Linked DNA regions of Homo sapiens: all the other regions are reported to be linked to region 3. The links are microRNA targets in miRTarBase. Many come from high-throughput screens and were not tested one by one. Region 3 holds a microRNA gene; each other region holds the end of a gene's coding sequence.

Region 1 (6,664 bases), not on the chromosome of region 3:
CTGCTAAGAGGCAGATTACGCTGTGTCTCTGATCAGATAAAGATCCACAAATAGTTTAATTTAATGAAAAGTGACTGCTCATCACAAAAATGTCTGCCTTTGCCTTACCCAGACCAGGAGTAGACATAGAAAGAGCAAAGCTGGTTGGTGATTGTATTATACATTCAGCCAGAGGACAAAGGCCTTAAAGGCTTACTTAGTCCTAACCATTGAGCTTTTCTCCTTACATTGACTAAGGTAAAATATGCCAGCAATGAAGGAATTGCTTCATGAATAGTAACCCTGACAATGTGATCCCGTCTCATTTCCCTATTTCTAAGCCCATCTGAGAAATTGGTCTGGAAATATACTGAGGGGCCTGAATATCAACCACTTATACCAGTCCTGATTAAAAAAGGTTATAGTGCCAGGGAAACACTTAAAGAAGGTTTTTGTGGGATGGAGAAAGCCAGTTTTCATCTAAGTGCATGCACAATATAAAAGAAAATAGGCTGGGCGAGGTGGCTCATGCCTGTAATCCCAGCACTTTGGGAGGCCGAGGTGGGTGGACTGCTTGAGCTCAGGAGTGTGAGGCTGCAGTGAGCCATGTTTGCACCACTGCATTCTAGCCTGGGCAAAAAAGTGAGACCCTCTCTCAAAAAAAAAAAAAAAAAAAAAAAAAAAACCACACACAAAAAAAGAGAAAAGAGAGAAAGAAAAAGAGAAAGAAGGAAAGTAAAGAAAGAAAAAGGAAAGTGGGGAAGGAGGGAGGGAGGCAGGCAGGCAGGCAGGCAAAGGGCAGGGGAAGGGAGGGAAAGGAAGAGAAAGAAAGGGAAAGGAAGGGAAGAAAAGGAAAATAGAAGGGACTAGCTCCAGGAGTGCCCCAAAGGAAGTCTATTTCCTCTTGCTGGATGTATAGTGCAAATAGTTTGCTACCTTCAGTTATTTTCATATTAAAAATCTGCTTTCTTGGCTGGGTGTGGTGGCTCATGCCTGTAATCCCAGCACTTTGGGAGGCCAAGGTGGGCAGATCACCTGAAGTCAGGAGTTCAAGACCAGCCTGGACAACATGGTGAAACCGTCTCTACTAAAAATACAAAAATTAGCCAGGCGTGGGTGGCATGTGCCTATAATCTCAGCTACTCAGGAGGCTGAGGCAGGAAAATCACTTAAACTTGGGAGGTGGAGGTTGCAGTGAGCCAAGATCGCACCACTACACTCCAACCTGGGCGACAGTGAGACTCTGTCTCCAAACAACAACAACAAAAAACAAACCTGCTTTCTCCTGCCTAACATCACTCACCAAAATAACCCATCACTTGAAATAGTGTTTCATAAAGGGAAAATGAGGAAATCAAAAGGAGATGGATTCCTAACACTAGTTACAGTTTTCTGTAGGAGTAATAAAAATGCTTACTCCTGATTTGGAAGGAAGGAAAGATGTGTTTATAATCCTGAAGACCTGGGAATGAGAAGAGAGTTTTTTTTGTTTTTTTTTTAAGACTGAGTTTTGCTCTTGTCGCCCAGGCTGGAGTGCAATGGCGCGATCTCGGCTCACCACAACCTCCGCCTCCCGGATTCAAGCGATTCTCCTGCCTCAGCCTCCTGAGTAGCTGGGATTACAGACATGTGCCACCATGCCCGGCTAATTTTGTGTTTTTAGTAGACACGAGGTTCCTCCATGTTGGTCAGGCTGGTCTTGAACTCCTGACCTCAGGTGATCCGCCCACCTTGGCATCCCAAAATGCTGGGATTACAGGCATGAGCCACAGGGCCCAGCTGAGAGTTCTCCTCTTCAAAACTTACCCTGGGTAGTTAAGGGGTGCCATACAGCACACAGAGACAAAGCCAGAGTTTCACCTTAATTACAGACAAGGGACAGTTTATAGGCATTCCAGCCATAATTTAGAAATAATCCATTTCTCCTGACAAGCTACCCAGGTCTCAAAATAACTTGTTGAAACAAAGAGGAATGATTCAGAAAGCAGAGTATTTTAGCAGTTGGAAGTGGAAAAAGAAGGCCTCTATTGCTAGGTTAGTGTAGAGAAAGGGTCTCTCTCTGACAACTACCTTTTCCTTCTCTTCACAGACCTTCCTAACTTCTCTCTCCCCACCCCTACCGCCCTCCTTCCAAGTCTCTGTACTACTCAAAGTGCATAAACTCGCAGGACAATGATACCTTTGACTACTGATTCGCCAATAGCAAAGCATATAAGTATCTGAAGTGACTTCATTTTACCAAAAGACACTGCCCCAGCTTTAACTTGACAAAGTACTTTGGGCTATTAAGAAGCAAACAAAAGGAAACCATACACTTGACGTTCTCCTGTAACTTTTCCAAGATAATCAAGGTTGCTACAGACTGGATTTTACATACGACAAAGTCATAGAAACTTCTGTGAAGAGCAATGTGGTCCAGATGAAAACAACCCTGAGGGATTTTTTGTTGTTGTTGTTGTTTTTGGTGAGTGGGAAAGGTGGCTTCTCTCACTGGGCTTTCTTTCTGGCCAGGCACATATACACAGACTGGACCAAAGAAGCTTCATACTCAAATGGGCAAGACCAAACCCCATTCAAGGGCCTAATGTTGTTTGTGACCATCCAAACCCCTTCAATTGGCACCTGCACACCTGGAGGATGGCTTTCATTTGGCACTTAAAAATACTTAAGAACACTCTTGTGAAAATATCCATATTATGATCTAATAAATGGTAATAAGCTGGCTGCTCTCTAAGATGACAGGCAAATACAGAATGAGCTTTCAGGATCTGTGCAACTGACCCACGGTCAACAGTATGTAGTTAATAGCAAGCCAATAATTGATGGAAGGCTGGGTATGGTGGCTGTCTCTAGTCCCAGCACTTTGGGAGGCTGAGACAAGAGGATCACTTGAGCCTAGGAGTTCAGGACCAGCTTGGGCAACATAGTGAGACTCCTGTCTCTAAAAAAAATTTAAAAATTAGCCAGGTGTGGTGGCATGTACCATAAGTCCCAGCAACTTGGGAGGTTGAGGTAGGGGGATTGTTCGAGCCTAGAAGGTTGAGGCTGCAGTGAGCTGTGCTGTCATGACTCCGACTGCACTCCAGCTTAGGCAAGAGAATGAGACCCTGTCCCTCTCTTAAAAAAAAAAAAAAAAAAAAAAAAAGATGAAGTCCCACTTGCCCATAATACTGAGAATACAGGGTGATTTTAGGCTTAAGCTAAATTCTAACTCCTTTCCCCACAACTGTTAACAGTTAAGCCTTTTCTGCAAAGTCAAGGATGCTAATAAGAGATGCTTGAAATGCTTATAAGAGAACTGTAAGAGGTTTTGGGTTTTATCACACAAGTTCCAAGGTGGAGGAGCAGTGACAGTGAGAGATAAGACAAGGTGAACAAGTTTAAAACCAAAAGCAGTGGACATTTATTCCTTAACTTTTGTGCAAGAGTGTAAAGATGCATTTGAAAGAACCTGATGGCTAGAGCATCAGCCATGGCTTTCAGGTTGGCCTAGTTTACAATTAGGAAAAGAAGGGGGGAAAAAAGGTAACTTGCCTAGTTCACATGAATGATGTTTCTGGCAAACACAGTTGTTTACAAGTTTCAAGCTATATTTTACTAGGGTCAAGGGAAGACTTCAAAAAGCCACATACAGTACAATTTAAAATTGTGTGAACATCCTGCAAATGTTAGTGCAAAGTAATTATGTAGACTCTCCAAACAAGACTGTGCTCTTGTTTCCCAGGTTTGGTCAATGTTGCTCTTTTATAATTACAATCACAGAAGCTTAACTTACCAAATAGCAATGCCTCTGTGTTTTATGTCCTATGTACCAAGGGAATGTCACAAGGTTTTGATGAAATGCAGCTTAGTTTCATTAATAAAGCAAATTTCTTATTGAATTTAACAATCAAGTTCCTGGAATGCTGCATGTGTTGTTTCATGGAAATGCTCTTAAGCTTATGCCTCTAACTTGTTCAATAAAATTACTCGTAAGATATCCTTTTTACAATGTAACTGGAATTGTTTCATGATCTTAAAATGCAACCAGTATAAATGAACATTTCAGAAGTGGGAGAAAATCCACCACTAATCTCAGCTAGACAAACTTCTTAAAAATGAAAAAGCCTATTCACACAAAATTATATGTAATGACTGTAGTAACCAGTTTATTACACAGATTAATCATTCTTGAAAGTACAAGCTCCAGAGGAGCAATTGGGTCTTTAAATATACACAAGTATTTCCATCAAATGAATTTTCACCCTTACATCCAAATAGACCTAAGCGGTTAAAAACATAAGAAAAATAAGAGCTATTAGCTATGTATTAACTGAGAAACCACATACAAACCAAAGAATATGGAAGAGAGAAAGAAGGGCTGAAAGGCCAAAGGTTGAAGGGGTAGGGAGATGTAAAAGAGTTGGGAACAAAGCCCATCACACTTGATGTACTAATAGCTCCAATCCATTTAAATGTTGACCAGTTAAACTTAGACCTTAAAATGCAGGATGTGGGTAGAGTTTAATCTGGTTGGTCATAACTTTCACCTAAGACGTAGCTCCTTCGGAATAAAATGAATACAGACACAGCTTCATGTTCTTCACCTTGCTTTTCATAACTGTTTTGAGTTTAAATGGATTCCACTTAAAAATAATCTCCTATAGGTGAGTGGAGCCTTTTCTTTCCCATCCAAGCACACACCATACCCACCACCCCCCTCACACCTTGCTGTTATCCAAATTTAAGTCAATAAGAAAAGCTTTTAGTCTCACACCTAGGTAATGCCTGTAGAACTGGCTTGTCACACACACACTTCTCTGCTAGGAGGCAATGTTGGTACAGAAGTACAGTATTTCTAGTTTGTTGTTCCAAGTATGTACAACACGCAGCACTGCTGTATCAGGTAAACATGTGCACAGGGGAAGATGAGGCGTGGGCTCATAGAAAGCAGTCAAATGGAAATCAAAAGGACTTTCTCTTTCAGAGTTCCCCTATCTTTATTTGTAGAGGTTATCCAATAATTTCTTTAATTACATCGCATACTTCTGAGTCCATTCCCGAGCTATTCTGTTGTACCTGTACACACAAAGAGAAGCTTGGCTTAACATAGGTGTGGAGTCAGTAAGCAACAGATTCCATTCATTATCCCATCAAGTAACTTGAAGAGAGTAGCTTATAGGACATTCAAGGAAAGGCCCCTTTCTATCCCAAATTTCTGATAAGGATTAATTCAATGATAATGGGAAGGAGCTGTAAAATGTGAAAGTCTCCTTTAATTGCTACTTATAGAGGGTTCTGATTAAATTTTAGTATTTGTTGGCATATACCTTATTCCATACTTGATTGGCCTATTTCTACAAAAGATGTCCACTCAATTCATTCATTTAAAGTACTTGAAATTATATGATTCTACATTACATAGTTCTTGAACTCATATACTAATAATGATTAAACCGACAGAAGGCTGGGCATGTTGGCTCACACCTGTAATCCCAGCACTTTGGGAGGCTGAGTCGGGTGGATCACTTGAGCCCAGGCGTTTCACACCAGCCTGGGCAACATGATAAAACCCTGTCTCTACAAAAAAATACAAAAATTAGCAGGGTGTGGTGGCGCATGACTATAGTCCCAGCTACTCAGGAGGCTGAGGTGGGAAGATCGTTTGAGCTCAGGAGGCAGAGGTTGCAGTGAGCTGAGATTGCAATACTGTACCATAGCCTGGGTGACAGAGTGAGGCTCTGTCTCAAAAAAAAAGGGGGAAAAAAAACCAAACTTTCCTTTCATATCAATAAAACAATTGGTTCTGGTAGAACTAATTTCAACAATTTGGTTGACAAAATGAATGGGTTTATTGCTTCAGAAGAACATTTGAATAAAGTAAGCAGAGCAAATGATTCTATAATTCTCCTATTAAAAAACGGGTGCTAGGCCGGGTGTGGTGGCTCACGCCTGTAATCCCAGCACTTTGGGAGGCTGGAGCAGCTGGATCACTTGAGGTCAGGAGTTCCAGACCAGCCTGGCCAACATGGCAAAATCCCGTCTCTACTGAAAACACAAAAATTAGCCAGGCATGGTGATGTGCGCCTGTAATCCCAGCTACTCAGGAGGCTGAGGCACAGGAATCACTTGAGCCTGGGAGGCAGAGGCTGCAGTGAGCCAAGATTGTGCCACTGCATTCCACCTGGGCAACGGAGCAAGACTCTGTCTCAAAAAAAAAAAAATTAGCTGGATGTGATGGCATCTGCCTGTGGTCCCAGCTACTTGGGAAGCTCAGATGGGAGGACTACTTGAGCCTGGGAGGTTGAGGTTACAGTGAGCTGTGATTGTGCCACTGCATTCCAGTCCGGGCAACAGAGCAAGACCCTGCCTCAAAAAAAAAAAAAAAAAAAAAGGGGGGGGGGTGGGGGTGGGTATGCTGGCCTTGCACGGTAACTCATGCCTGTAACAGCAGCACTTTGGGGGGCTGAGGCAGAAGGCCTGCTTGAGGCCAGGAATTAGAGACCAGCCTGTGCAACATAGTGAGATCCTGTCTCTACAAAAAAAAAAAAAAAAAAACAAATTAGCCAGGTGTAGTGGCATGTACTAGCAGTCCCAGCTACTGGGGAGGCTGGAAAGGTGTAGTGGCATGTACTAGCAGTCCCAGCTACTGGGGAGGCTGGGGTGGGAGGATCACTTGAGCCCATGAGTTTGACACTGCAGTGAG
Region 2 (6,664 bases), not on the chromosome of region 3:
GGCAGTCCCTCCCATAACAGGCCCTCAGGTTTAGGAGGAAAAAATGGTTTCATGGGCTGGGCCCAGGGTCCCTGTGCTGTATGCAGTCTAGGGACTTGATGCCCTGCATCTCAGCTGCTCCAGCGATGACTAAAAGGGGCCAAGGCACAGCTTGGGCTATTGCTTCAGATGGTGGAAGCCCCAAGCCTTGGCAGCTTCTATGTTGTGTGGATTCAAAGCCTGGTCATATGGTTTGGCTGTGTCCCCACCCAGATCTCATCTTGAATTCCCACATGTTCAAGAATTGAGGTTAGGGAACCTCTGCGTAGATTTCAGAGGATGTATGAAAATGCCTGGATGCCCAGGCAGAAGTTTGCTGCAGGGGCAGGTCCCTCATGGAGAACCTCTGCTAGGGCAGTGCAGAAGGCAAATGTGGGGTGGGAGCCTCAACAGAGTCCCTACCGGGTCACCACCTAGTGGAGCTGTAAGAAGAGGGCTACCGTCCTCCAGACTCCAGAATGGTAGATCCACCGATAGCTTGCACATGGAGAAGCCACAGACATTCAACGCCAGCTAGTGAAAGCAGCCAGATGGGGGACCGCAAAGCCACAGGGGTGAAACTACCCAAGGCCATGGGAGCCCATCTCGTGCATCAATGTGACCTCGGTGTGAGACATGGAGTCAAGGGAGACAATTTTGGAGATTTAAGATTTGACTGCCCACTAGATTTCAGACTTGCATGGGGCCTGTCACCCCTTTGTTTTGGCCAATTTCTCCCATTTGGAATGGCTGTATTTACCCAATGCCTGTATCTCCATTGCATCTAGGAAGTAACTAACTTGATTTTGATTTTACAGGCTCATAGGAGGAAGGGACTTGCCTTGTCTCGGATGAGACTTTGGACTGTGGACTTTTGAGTTAATGCTGAAATAAGACTTTGGGGGACTACTGGGAAGGCATGATTGGTTTTGAAATGTGAGGACATGCGATTTGGGAGAGGCCAGGGCGGAATGATATTGTTTGGATGGGTCTCCACCCAAATCTCATCTTGAATTCTCACGTGTTGTGGGAGGGACTTGGTGGGAGGTAATTGAATCATGGGGGCAGGTCTTTTCCATGCTGTTCTCGTGGTAGTGAATAAGTCTCACGAGATCTGATGGTTTTATAAGGGGGAGTTTCCCTGCACAAACTCTCTTCTCTTGTCTGCTGCCATGTGAGACGGGCTTTTCACCTTCACCTTTCACCACGGGCTTTTCACCTTCACCTTTCACCATGATTGTGAGGCCTCCCCAGCCACGTGGAACTGTAAGTACAATAAACTTCTTTCTTTTGGAAATTGCCCAGTCTCAGGTATGTCTTTATCAGCAGCATGAAAACTATTATACCTGGTTACTTGCCCCTGATGGGTGAGGGCACCACACTCTTCTCTCCATCCTGGCTTCATGCTCATCTTCTTAAAGATACAGTGTTGGCTCCCATGGGCATCTGCAGGAGGTCTCAGGGGATCTCCCACAGGCCTATGATGACCCAGGCAACTGCATTCCTGGTCTACTACTTCCCCTGGGAAGGTGCTTTTATTCCAAACATAAGCCTTGCAAAAAGCAGTAATAAAATCCTGTGCAAAAAGCAGTAATAAAATCCTGTGAACAATCACCATTTAGCAAATTATCTTCCCCTCTGCTTCAAACACACAGGCAGGCCCACTGACCAGAGTGTACATTTTTTCTGTAGCACTTTTTGGTCAAGGGAATGTGGCTGTGCCATAACCTTCTTCTGTGCTTCTTCTCTTCTCTTCTCTTATTCACCAGAGGATCTCTGGTAATCAGCACAGGTCCTGCTTGATACGTTCTGCATAAAAGTTTATTAAATGAACAGGATAGTACCTTAAGACAAAATTGTCCCTCTGAGGCCAGGCATGGTGGCCCATGCCTGTAATCCCAGCACTTTGGGAGGCAAAGGCAGGTGGATCACCTGAAATCAGGAGTTTGAGAGCAGCCTGGCCAACATGGTGAAACTAAAAATACAAAAAAATTAGCCAGGCACAGTGGCGGATGCCTGTAATCCTAGCTGCTTGGGAGGCTGAGGCAGAAGAATCACCTGAACCCAGGAGGTGGAGGTTGCAGTGAGCCGAGATCGCACCATTGCACTCCAGCTTGGACAACAAGAGTGAAACTCCGTCTCAAAAAAAGAAAAAAAATTGTCCCTCTGATATGGTTTGGCTGTGTCCCCACCCAAATCTCATCTTGAATTGTAGCTCCCAAGATTCCCACGTGTCATGGGAGGGACCTGGTGCGAGGTAATTACGTCATGGGGGCAAGTCTTTCCTATGCTGTTCTTATGACAGTGAATAAGTCTCATGAGATCTGATGGTTTTATAAAGGGGAGTTCCCCTGCACATGCTCTCTTGCCTGCCGCCATGTAAGACATCACTTTGCTCTTCCTTCATCTTCCACCATGATTGTGAGGCCTCTCCTGCCATGTGGAACTATGAGTCCATTAAACCTCTTTCCTTTATAAATTACCCAGTTTCGAGTATGTCTTTATTAGCAGCATGAGAATAGACTAATGCAACCTCTCTCCTTTTCCTTTCTCCATATGTCCCATGAGAGTATAAGCTAAAATAATTAGGGAAAAGGTGAAGTGTGGTAAATATAATATTTTTCTAAGAAGTAACGGCACTAGAAGACAAGCATGATTAATGTCCTTTTGACAATTATCACAAAATAAAAAACAAGAAACACCACAATACAAATATAATTGGGTTTTCAAAGAAACCAAGTTACATGCATACATAGCCACACACTTCATCTGAGAACCTTGGCACCGTTTCTTTTTATTATAGCTAGACACAAGATGCCCAAAGATATACAAAACAAACAATACAAATTTTAAACACTTTTACAAAGGTGACAATATAAAGAAATGAAGACTATGGATTTATGTTTGCAAACATTAATTTCCTTTGAATACTGTCTGGTGTTAAAACCTAACAGTTTACCAGAATTTGTATTTGACACAACTATTTTTAAAATTATAGTGGACAAAACTAATGAAATTCTAATCATCAATAGCCTATGACAAATAACTATTATAATTAAAATTAATACAATCTTCAACTATTCTCCTAAGTACTGTTGCTATAATTTTCTGTTTATTAAAACTTTTTATTTTAGGGAAAAAAACTGACCTTACTGCTATTCCTGGAAAAAGAATTAATAAACTTTCATTAAATATTCAATCTCAACTTTTAAAACTTAAAGCTCTTTATTTCTGCTAATCTGAAACTACTTTTGGTTCACTGCTAACTTTTAAAATATCTTAATCAATGTGATTTAAGGTCATTTTGTCTGCAGAGTGCTCATGTTTTTCATCCTTATACCAAAGCAGTAAGGCAAAAAAGCAGTTCCTTTTCCAAATCAGACAAAGAGAAAATTTCATCCATTTTAAAAGTCAGGAACTAGAACTGCTGCAAATGATCCGACCAACAGGAAATTAAGGCTGCTGTGATTTTCCTTTATATTTAAATCATAAAGTAAGATTAGCAGTGCTATTCCCTGTGAAAGTTGAATTTATAACCTTTGGGCTTGAATCACAGGACATAAATATTGCCATTTCTGTTTATACTTCTAAGACACTGTTTTCACAATCACTTTTGATAAGTTTTTAGATGCAATTAGAAAACACTACACAATGCTGAGAAAGTGCACAACTCTGCTACAACGAGATACATGCTAGAGGTGTAAGAGCAGATTCTAGTGTTCGGTGAGCATTGGCACAGTCTGCCCCAGCCTGGCACACAGATGTACAGGATACACACTACCCAGCATGGCACGTAGTTGGGGAGCAGGGGCTAAGGCCTTTCAATGCTCCAAAGTGTCTGGCCCTTTACTGCTAAAAGCAAGATTCATGGTTTTGCAAGAACCTTTGGGCACCAGCTAGAGTATATCCTGTTTGCTGCAACATTCTTCTTTGAGGCAAGTCCTTCTAGATATGTGAAAGAGAAAAATCATGTAACCTCTCCTATAAAAGATTTCCCAAAATCATTTTCTAGCATGAATGTGAACCAGGCTTCACAGTATATATCTACCAGTATTAGCACCATTATTTAAGCCTGCACTGAGGTAAAGATAAACTCTCAGACAGCTTTGGGTAGAAATTCCAGCAGCAATCTTGAGTGGGGTGTTTACAGCAGCATTCTTTCTGATCATTAAGTTGTATGAAGAACCATTTGAATCCAGGTATATATATACAAGTATATACTGAAGCTGATGATAAAATACAAAGCTAGGCTAGCAGGAGAAATACAGCAAAACAGAACTCTCATTTTAAAATTTAAACTATGTCATTACTGGGTTGATGAAGTCAAAGATTTGATAAAATATACTGAACCAATAGCACAAAGCTGGCTTTATAAACCATCAATACCCAGAAATTTCTTTTTTCAGAGCATGGTCAAGTTTACTGCAGGTGCTACCCATCAACATCCAGAACCTACGTTTAACCAGGTCAGTCTATTTGTCCTCTGCTTGTTACATATTCTGTTTCATAAAAAAGGTGAGTAGCCCTTCCCCAATTATTTTGTATTTGTGTAGGAAAACCTCTCTGGAATTTGTACTTATTTTTATAAAGGATGCAGTGGAAAAGACGTTAAAACTCTGTAAAAAATTTAAAAGGGTACAATATGTTTCAGCAAATGAAAACATAGTTAAGAGATAACCGGACAAAAAGAGGTGATTCTCTAATTTAGTTCCTATAAGCTGATAAGGTGAAACAATAATGTTAAAATAAAACACTTAATGAAAAATTTTCAAATTGCTTTTCCTCTCCCTTTAAAATCCCTCAACATATAAAAGAAATAAGAAAGCTGAGATATATAGCTAGCTTTTTGGAGCAACACAAAACTAATTTTTCAAAGGAGAATAATTACCATTATTTATCAAATAAAATATAACTTTGGAGTCTGAACAGCAATGGAATTCAGCCAGTCTCCAGTTGGAGCTGACCTCCATATTTAGGCAGAAGCACTAGGCCAGTGCTTACTGCTCAGGCAGAAATTTATCATGCAATTTGACCAAGAGTCTTCAAAAATGCTCAGCAGTAGTATTTTCATCTGACTCTGTCGAGATTCAGAAAATAGGAATAACTTCCCCCTGCAACCTATAGAAACATTTTAGGGAAATAGTTTAAGATCTGTACTTAACCTAAAAATTCCGCTGAATACTGAAGACCCTTCTTCAGAAAACACAAGTAGTCTTTCTTCTTTTATAAATCTTCTGGTGCTAACTGCACCTAACTGGTAATATACATGGAGGCATAGCTTAGCTATGTTTGCCAGAACGCTAATTACTATATAAGATCTTTCAGTTCCCTGTCAGTCAGTTCATTCACTTCCATGATCTTCTCTAAGTGTTCCATATATCGGCCATGGTCCTGCAGGAAATGAGGGACCCTCATGTTTTCGGTAACTGCCAATCCTTTTAAGCGATCCACATCTTCATAAGAAACCTGAAAAAAAGGAAGATGAGTTAAATTAAAAATGTAACTACAATGTACATTTTAAGGATGAATTTCTTCCCTGGGCCTTAAATGAAAGTATACAGATCATTTGTCAAATTATTTTAATAGCTGCAAAGTAACAAAAATCAGTGACTTACATTTTCTTCACTGTGTTAAATAATAATGTATTTCTCTGCCCCTTATACCATGACCATATTAAAAGAGTATTATTATTATTTTTTTCCTGAGATGGAGTTTCATTCTTGTTGCCCAGGCTGGAGTGCAGTGGCGTGATCTTGGCTCACTGCAACCTCCACCTCCCGGGTTCAGGTGATTCTCCTGCCTCAGCCTCCTGAGTAGCTGGGATTACAGGCGCCCGCCACCACACCTGGCTAATTTTTTGTATTTTTAGTAGAGATGATGTTTCATTAGCCAGGCTGGTCTCGAACTCCTGACCTCAGGTGATCCACCCACCTTGGCCTCCCAAAGTGCTGGGATTACAGGCGTGAGCCACCGTGCCCAGCCTAAAAGATTATTTTAAAAAGTCAAATTTGATTTAATACTCTACCTTGAACCTACTCAGTTTGTCTAAAAATTAGACAGCCATACTTAATATATTTGTGTGTGAGAGAGACTCTAAAACCAAACAAGTCTTCTGGCTAAATCGAAATAAAAGAATCAAAATAACTAGAATATAAATGACATATTATTAAATTAGAAAAATTAGCACAATTATACAGGGTGAGCATCCCAAATCCAAAAATGCAAAATCTGAAATGCTGCAAACTTTTGGAGCACCCACGTGATGCTCACAGAAAATACTCATTGGAGCATGTGGAATTTCCAATTTGGGGATTTCGGATGCTCAACTAGTAAAGAATGTAAATACTCCAAAATTCAAAAAAATCCAAAATCCAAAACACTTCTAGTCCCAAGCATTTTAGAGAAGAGATACTCAATCCATATATTAAGTTCCTATTTCTCTTTAATTTAGGATACATAATGATTTGTGATTTGTATTACATCTTCTTGCTTTTATTTTGAATTTTTGTAAAAAAGTTCACATCTTTTTAATTCTCCTATTTAAGAAGCTAGTCTCTCACAGGTACTTATATTAGGTTTAAGGATGAAGCTTTTAAAGTTCTATAAATTATCTTTATTCTTAAATTTTTTTTAAGAGATAGGGTCT
Region 3 (5,929 bases):
CTTTTCTCAAACCGTAACACTCCAAAGGGAAGCGATTTCTTTTCTTTCAGACAACAGAAAGCGCTTTCCTTTGTAGACTCACAGCTTGAGATCTTCTTGCTCCAGCACTCTGGGTTTCTTGTTGAAATTTTCCTTGACCAGGTTAAAATGGACAGAAAAATAAAGATGCATTCATTGTCCCTATTTGCATGTTTTCTGGAATCCAGAACATAACCCCCTAAAAGGACCATCTCCAGTTCCTTGCTTCAAAGGCTCAGCAGGTTAGCCTTGTTCAAGAGGCAGTCCTCCTGAGTATTATCTACAAAGAGAAAAAGCAATGCCTACTACACATACCTTTTTATTTTTTATTTTTTGAGATGAAGTCTCGCTCTGTCACCCAGGCTGGAGTGCAGTGGCGCGATCTCAGCTCACTGCAACCTCCGCTTCCTGGGTTCAAGCAATTCTCCTGCCTCAGCCTCCCAAGTAGCTGAGATTACTGGTGGAGCCACCACGCCCAGCTAATTTTTGTATTTTTAGTAGAGATGGGTTTCACCGTGTTGGTCAGGCTTGTCTCGAACTCCTGACCTCGTGATCCTCCCACCTCGGTCTCCCAAAGTGCTGGGATTACAGGCATGAGCCACCACGCCCAGCCCACATACCTTGTCTTTAACCAAGACAATTGGCCTGGAATTCATGAGAACAGCAATGGATGTTGAGCCAAGTGTTCACTTGAGTTCCAGTACAGGGGCACACAGTCCGGATGGGAGCATCCAAATGGAATCTAAAATGTTGAAGAATATACATTGTCACACACACAAACATTCTCCAGGATAGACCACAGGCTGGGATGTAAAAGCTCCTCCATAAAATTTGAGCAGAAACACACAAGAGTAGGGCACGCTTGCTCACACCATTAATCACAGCAGTTTTGGAGGCCCAGGCGGGAGGAGCAATTGAGCTCAAGGGTCCGAGACCAGCCTGGGCAACATGGTGAAACCTCATCTATACAAAAAATACAAAAGTTAGGCAGGTGTGGTAGTGCATGCCTGGAGACAGGTATTCAGGAGGCTGAGGTGGGAGGTGGAGGTTGCAGTGAGCCGAGATCGCACCACTGCCCTATAGCCTGGGTGACAGAGCCAGACCCTGTCTCAAAAATAAATCAATAAATCAATAATAAAAATGCAAAAGTTAGCTGGGCATGGTGGCACAGCCTGTAACCCCAGCTGCTCCGGAGGCTGAGGCAGGAGAATTGCTTGAACCCAGGAGGCAGAGATTGCAGTGAGCCAAGTTCCTGCCACTGCACTCCAGCCAGGGCCACAGAGTGAGACTCTGTCCCAAAAAGAGGGCCACTTGAACCCAAGAGATCTAAGTTGGAAGTGCCACCGCACTCCAGCCTGGGGAACAGACACCCTGTCTTAGATAAAAAACAAAACCCCACCATTATCCACGTCTGATGATCAGCACGCTCTGCAAATGTATTACCAAGATCAGCGTCAACTTCAACGTTGCTTTTCTCAAACCGTAACCCTCTGAAAGGAAGCACTTTCTTTTCTTTCAGACAACAGAAAGTGCTTCTTTCCTCGAGAAGGTCACAGCCTGAGATCTTGCTCCAGCACCGTGGGTTTTTTGTTGGAATTTTCCTAGATCAAGTTAAAATGGACAGAAACATAAAGATGCATTTATTGGCCCTGTTTGCATGTTTTCTGGAATCCAGAATATAAACCCCTAAAAGGAGGATCTCCAGTTACTTGCTTCAAAGAATCAGCAGGTTAGCTTTGTTCATCAAGGGGCAATCCTCCTGAGTTTTGTCTCTGGAAAGAAAAAGCAATGCCTGCTACACATATCTTATATTTAACCAAGAGAACTGGGCTGGATTTCTAGAGAAGAGCAATGGATATTGAGCCAGGTGTTCACCGGAGTTCCAGCACAAGGACACACAGTTTCTACGGAAGCAATCAAAATGGAATCTAAGATGTTGATGAATATACATTGTCTCACACACAAACATCCTCCAGGATAGACCACAGGCTAGGACATAAAAAATCCTCAATAAAATTTGAAAAGAAATACAGAAGCTGGGCGCGGTGGCTCATGCCTGTAATCCCAGCACTTCGGTAGGCCGAGGCCAGTAGATCATGAGGTCAGGAGTTTGAGACCAGCCTGGCCACCTTGATGAAACCCCATCTCTACTAAAAATACAAAAAATTAGCCAGGCGTGGTCGTGGGCACCTGTAATCCCAGCTACTTGGGAGGCTGAGGCAGTAGAATCACCTGAACCCGGGAGGGGGAGGTTGCCGTGAGCTGAGATCATGCCGTTGCACTCCAGCCTGGGTGACAGAGCGAGATCCCATCTCAAAAAAAAAAAAAAAAAAAAAAAGGCCGGGTGCAGTGGCTCACACCTGTAATCCCAGCACTTTGGGAGGCTGAGGCAGGGAGATCACGAGGTCAGGAGATCAAGACCATCCTGGCTAATACGGTGAAACCCCGTCTCTACTAAAAATACAAAAAATTAGCCAGGCGCGGTGGTGGGCACCTGTAATCCCAGTTACTTGGGAGGATGAGGCAGGAGAATCGCTTGAACCCGGGAGGGGTAGGATGCAGTGAACCGAGATCGTGCCATTGCACTCCAGGCTGGGTGACAGAGCGAGACCCCATCTCAAAAAAACAAAACAAAAAAACAAAAAAGCTGGGTGCGGTGGCTCAAGCCTGTAATCCCAGCACTTTGGGAGGCCAAGGCAGGCAGATCACGAGCTCAGGAGATCAAGACCATCCTGGCTAATCCAGTGAAACCCCGTCTTCACTAAAAATACAAAAAATTAGCCAGGCGTGGTGGCGGGTGCCTGTAGTGCCAGCTACTTGGGAGGCTGAGGCAGAAAAATATCATGAACTGGGGAGGCGGAGCTTGCAGTGAGCCAAGATCGTGCCACTGCACTCCAGCCTGGGTGACAGAGCCAGACTCCATCTCAAAAAAAAAAAAAAAAAAAGAAAAGAAAAGAAATACACAAGTTTGGGTGAGGGACAGTGGCCGAGACAGGAGCATCACTTGAGCTCAGTAGCTGGAGACCAGCTTGGGCAATATGGTGAAGCCCTGTCTGTAAAAAAACTACAAAAGTTAGGTGGCCAGGTGCAATGTCTCTCACCTGTAATCCTAGCACTTTGGGAGGTCGAGGCAGGTGGATCACTTGAGGTCAGGAGTTCAAGACCAGCCTGAGAAAGAAGGTGAAACCCATCTCTACTAAAAATACAAAATTAGCCAGGTGTGGTGGTGCATGCCTGTAATCCCAGCTACTTGGGAGGCTGAGGCAGGAGAATTGCTTGAAGCCGGGAGTCAGAGGTTGCAGTGAGCTGAAATCACCCCATTGCACTCCAGCCTGAGCGACAAAAGCAAAATTCCTTCTCAGAAAAAAAAGTGAGCCAGGTGTGGTGGTGCATGCCTGTAGACACTAATTCAGGGGACTTTAGGTGGGAGGTGGAGGTTGCAGTGAGCTGAGCTTGCAATACTACACTTTAGCCTGAGCAACAGAGCCAGACGTTGTCTCAAAAACAAAGAAACAAACACAAAACAAACACACAAACAAAAAAACCCAAAGCGATATAAGAATACTCTTCGTGTGCAGAAGAGTATTTTGTGTGTATATGATTATATATATAAGAATATATGACAAAATATATATCATACTAGCCAACATGGTGAAATCCAGTCTGTATTAAAAATGAAATATAAAAAGTAGCCAGGTGTGGTGGTGTACTTCTGTAATTCCAGCTACTCAGGAGGCTAAGGCAGAAGCATTACTTGAACCAGGGAAGCGCAGGTGGCAGCGAGCCGAGATCGTGCCACTGCCCTCCAGTCTGGGTGACAGTGAGACTCCATCTTAAAAATAAATAAATACATGAATAAAACCAAATATTATCCAGGTGTGGGGATGGGCACCTGTAAATCTCAGCTACTTGGGAGGCCGAAGCAGGAGAATTGCTTGAACCTGGGAGGCGGAGGTTGTAGTGAGCCAAGATGGGATCACTGCACTCCAGCCTCGGTGATAGAGAGACTCTGCCCCCAAAAAGGACCATTTGAATCCAAGAGACCTAGGTGGGATGTGCCACCGCACTCCAGCATGGGCAACACAGACCCTGTCTTAGAATAAAAAAGCAAAACCAAAACAGAACCCCACCACCGTCCAAGTGTGATAAGCATGCTCTGCAAATGTATTACCGAGATCAGCATCAACTTCAACGTTGCTTTTCTCAAACCGTAATTCACCAAAGGGAAGCACTTTCTTTTCTTTTAGACAACAGAAAGGGCTTCCCTTTGCAGTCACAGCTTGAGATCTTCTTGCTCCGGCACTCTGGGTTTCTTGTTGAAATTTTCCTTGACCAGGTCAAAACGGACACAAAAATAAAGATGCATGTATTGGCCCTGTTTGCATGTTTTCTGGAATCCAGAACATAAACCCCTAAAAGGACCATCTCCAGTTCCTTGCTTCAAAGAATCTGCAAGTTAGCCTTGTTCACCAAGGGGCAATCCTCCTGAGTTTTGTCTCTAAAGGGAAAAAGCAATGCCTACTACACATACCTTATCTTTACCGAGAACTGAGCTGGATGTCTAGAGAAAAGCGACGGATTTTGAACCAAGTGTTCACCTGAGTTCCAGTACAGGGACACAGTCCTGATGGGAGCATCCAAAATGGAATCTAAATTAGCCAGGCATGGTGGTGCATGCCTGTAATCCTAGCTTCTCAGGAGGCTGAGGCAGGAGAATTGGTTGAACCAAGGAGGAGGAGGTTGCAGTAAGCCACGATCGCGCCACTGCACTCCAGCCTGGGAGACACAGCAAGACTCCGTCTCAACAATAAATAAATAAATAAACAAATAAATAAAAATACAAAAATTAGCTGGGTGTGGTGGCTCACACCGGTAATCCCAGCTGCTCAGGAGGCTGAGTCAGGAGAATGGCTTGAACCTAGGAGGCGGAGGTTGCAGTGAGGAGAGTTTCTGCCACTGCCCTCCAGCCTGGGTCACAAAGCAAGACTGAACCAAAAAAAAGGACCACTCGAGCCCAAGAGATCTATGTTAAAAATGCCACCGCACTCCAGCCTGGGCAACAGACACCCTGTGGTAGAGAAAAACAGGCCGGGCGCAGTGGCTCACAGTTGTAATCCCAGCACTTTGGGAGATCGACGTGGGTGGATTACCTGAGGTCAGGAGTTCGAGACCAGCCTGGCCAACATGGTGCAAACCCTGTCTCTACTAAAAATACAAATAATTAGCCGGGCATGGTGGCACAGGCCTGTAATCCCAGCTACTCAGGAGGCTGAGGCAGGAGAATTGCTTGAGCCTGGGAGATGGAGGTTGCAGTGAGCCGAGATCACGCCACTGCGCTCCAGCCTGGGCCACAGAGCAAGACTCAGTCTCAAAAACAATAACAAGGCTGGACGCGGTGGCTCACGCCTGTAATCCCAGCACTTTGGGAGGCTGAGGCGGGTGGATCACGAGGTCAGGAGATCGAGACCATCCTGGCTAACACGGTGAAACCCCGTCTCTACTAAAAATACAAAGAATTAGCCGGGTGTGCTGGCGGGCACCTGTAGTCCCAGCTACACAGGAGGCTGAGGCAGGAGAATGGCGTGAACCCGGGAGGCAGAACTTGCAGTGAGCCGAGATAGCGCCACTGCACTCCAGCCTGGGCGAAAGAGCAAGACTCGGCCTCAAAAAAAAAAAAAACAAAAAACAAAAAACAGAAAAACCCCAAAACTAAACAAAACAAAACAAAAAAAAACTCAGAAGCCCAACATCATCCAAGTCTGATTATAAGCATTCGCTGCAAATTTATTACCAAGATCAGCATCAGCTTCAATGTTGCTTTTCTCAAACAGTAACACTCTAAAAGGATGCACTTTCCTTTCTTTCAGACAACAGAAAGCGCTTCCCTCTAGAGTGTCACAGCCTGAGGTCT

Evidence for each region. The annotated mature microRNA hsa-miR-518a-5p reads CUGCAAAGGGAAGCCCUUUC and lies in region 3 at 4,272-4,291, opposite strand. An mRNA with a match to its seed (bases 2 to 7 or 8) in the 3' UTR can be bound and repressed. Matches are read on the target gene's strand: a 7mer-m8 pairs with bases 2 to 8, a 7mer-A1 pairs with bases 2 to 7 and ends in A, and an 8mer does both.
Region 1: miRTarBase lists UBE2D2 as a target of hsa-miR-518a-5p. Seed matches in the 3' UTR shown: 7mer-m8 at 3,652-3,658.
Region 2: miRTarBase lists MATCAP2 as a target of hsa-miR-518a-5p. Seed matches in the 3' UTR shown: 7mer-A1 at 2,923-2,929.

The regions. Positions count from the first base shown.
Region 1 is chr5:139,625,129-139,631,792 of GRCh38, reverse strand. UBE2D2 (ubiquitin conjugating enzyme E2 D2) reads right to left here. Exons shown (of 7, transcript NM_003339.3): 7 at 3,359-5,037. The coding sequence ends at 4,992. Among named protein-coding and RNA genes, the nearest start is that of CXXC5, 20 kb to the left of the region's middle.
Region 2 is chr7:36,321,435-36,328,098 of GRCh38, forward strand. It overlaps MATCAP2 (microtubule associated tyrosine carboxypeptidase 2), which reads right to left. Exons shown (of 7, transcript NM_001199706.2): 7 at 2,718-5,484. The coding sequence ends at 5,326. Among named protein-coding and RNA genes, the nearest start is that of MATCAP2, 42 kb to the right of the region's middle.
Region 3 is chr19:53,752,393-53,758,321 of GRCh38, reverse strand. MIR527 (microRNA 527) reads right to left here and starts at 4,304; the gene lies at 4,220-4,304. It overlaps MIR516A1 (microRNA 516a-1), which reads right to left and starts at 1,581; the gene lies at 1,492-1,581. It overlaps LOC124904765 (a long non-coding RNA gene), which reads right to left. Exons shown (of 6, transcript XR_007067334.1): 6 at 5,684-5,929. It overlaps LOC124904766 (a long non-coding RNA gene), which reads right to left and starts at 2,084. Exons shown (of 2, transcript XR_007067335.1): 1 at 639-2,084. It also overlaps MIR519A1 and MIR1283-2.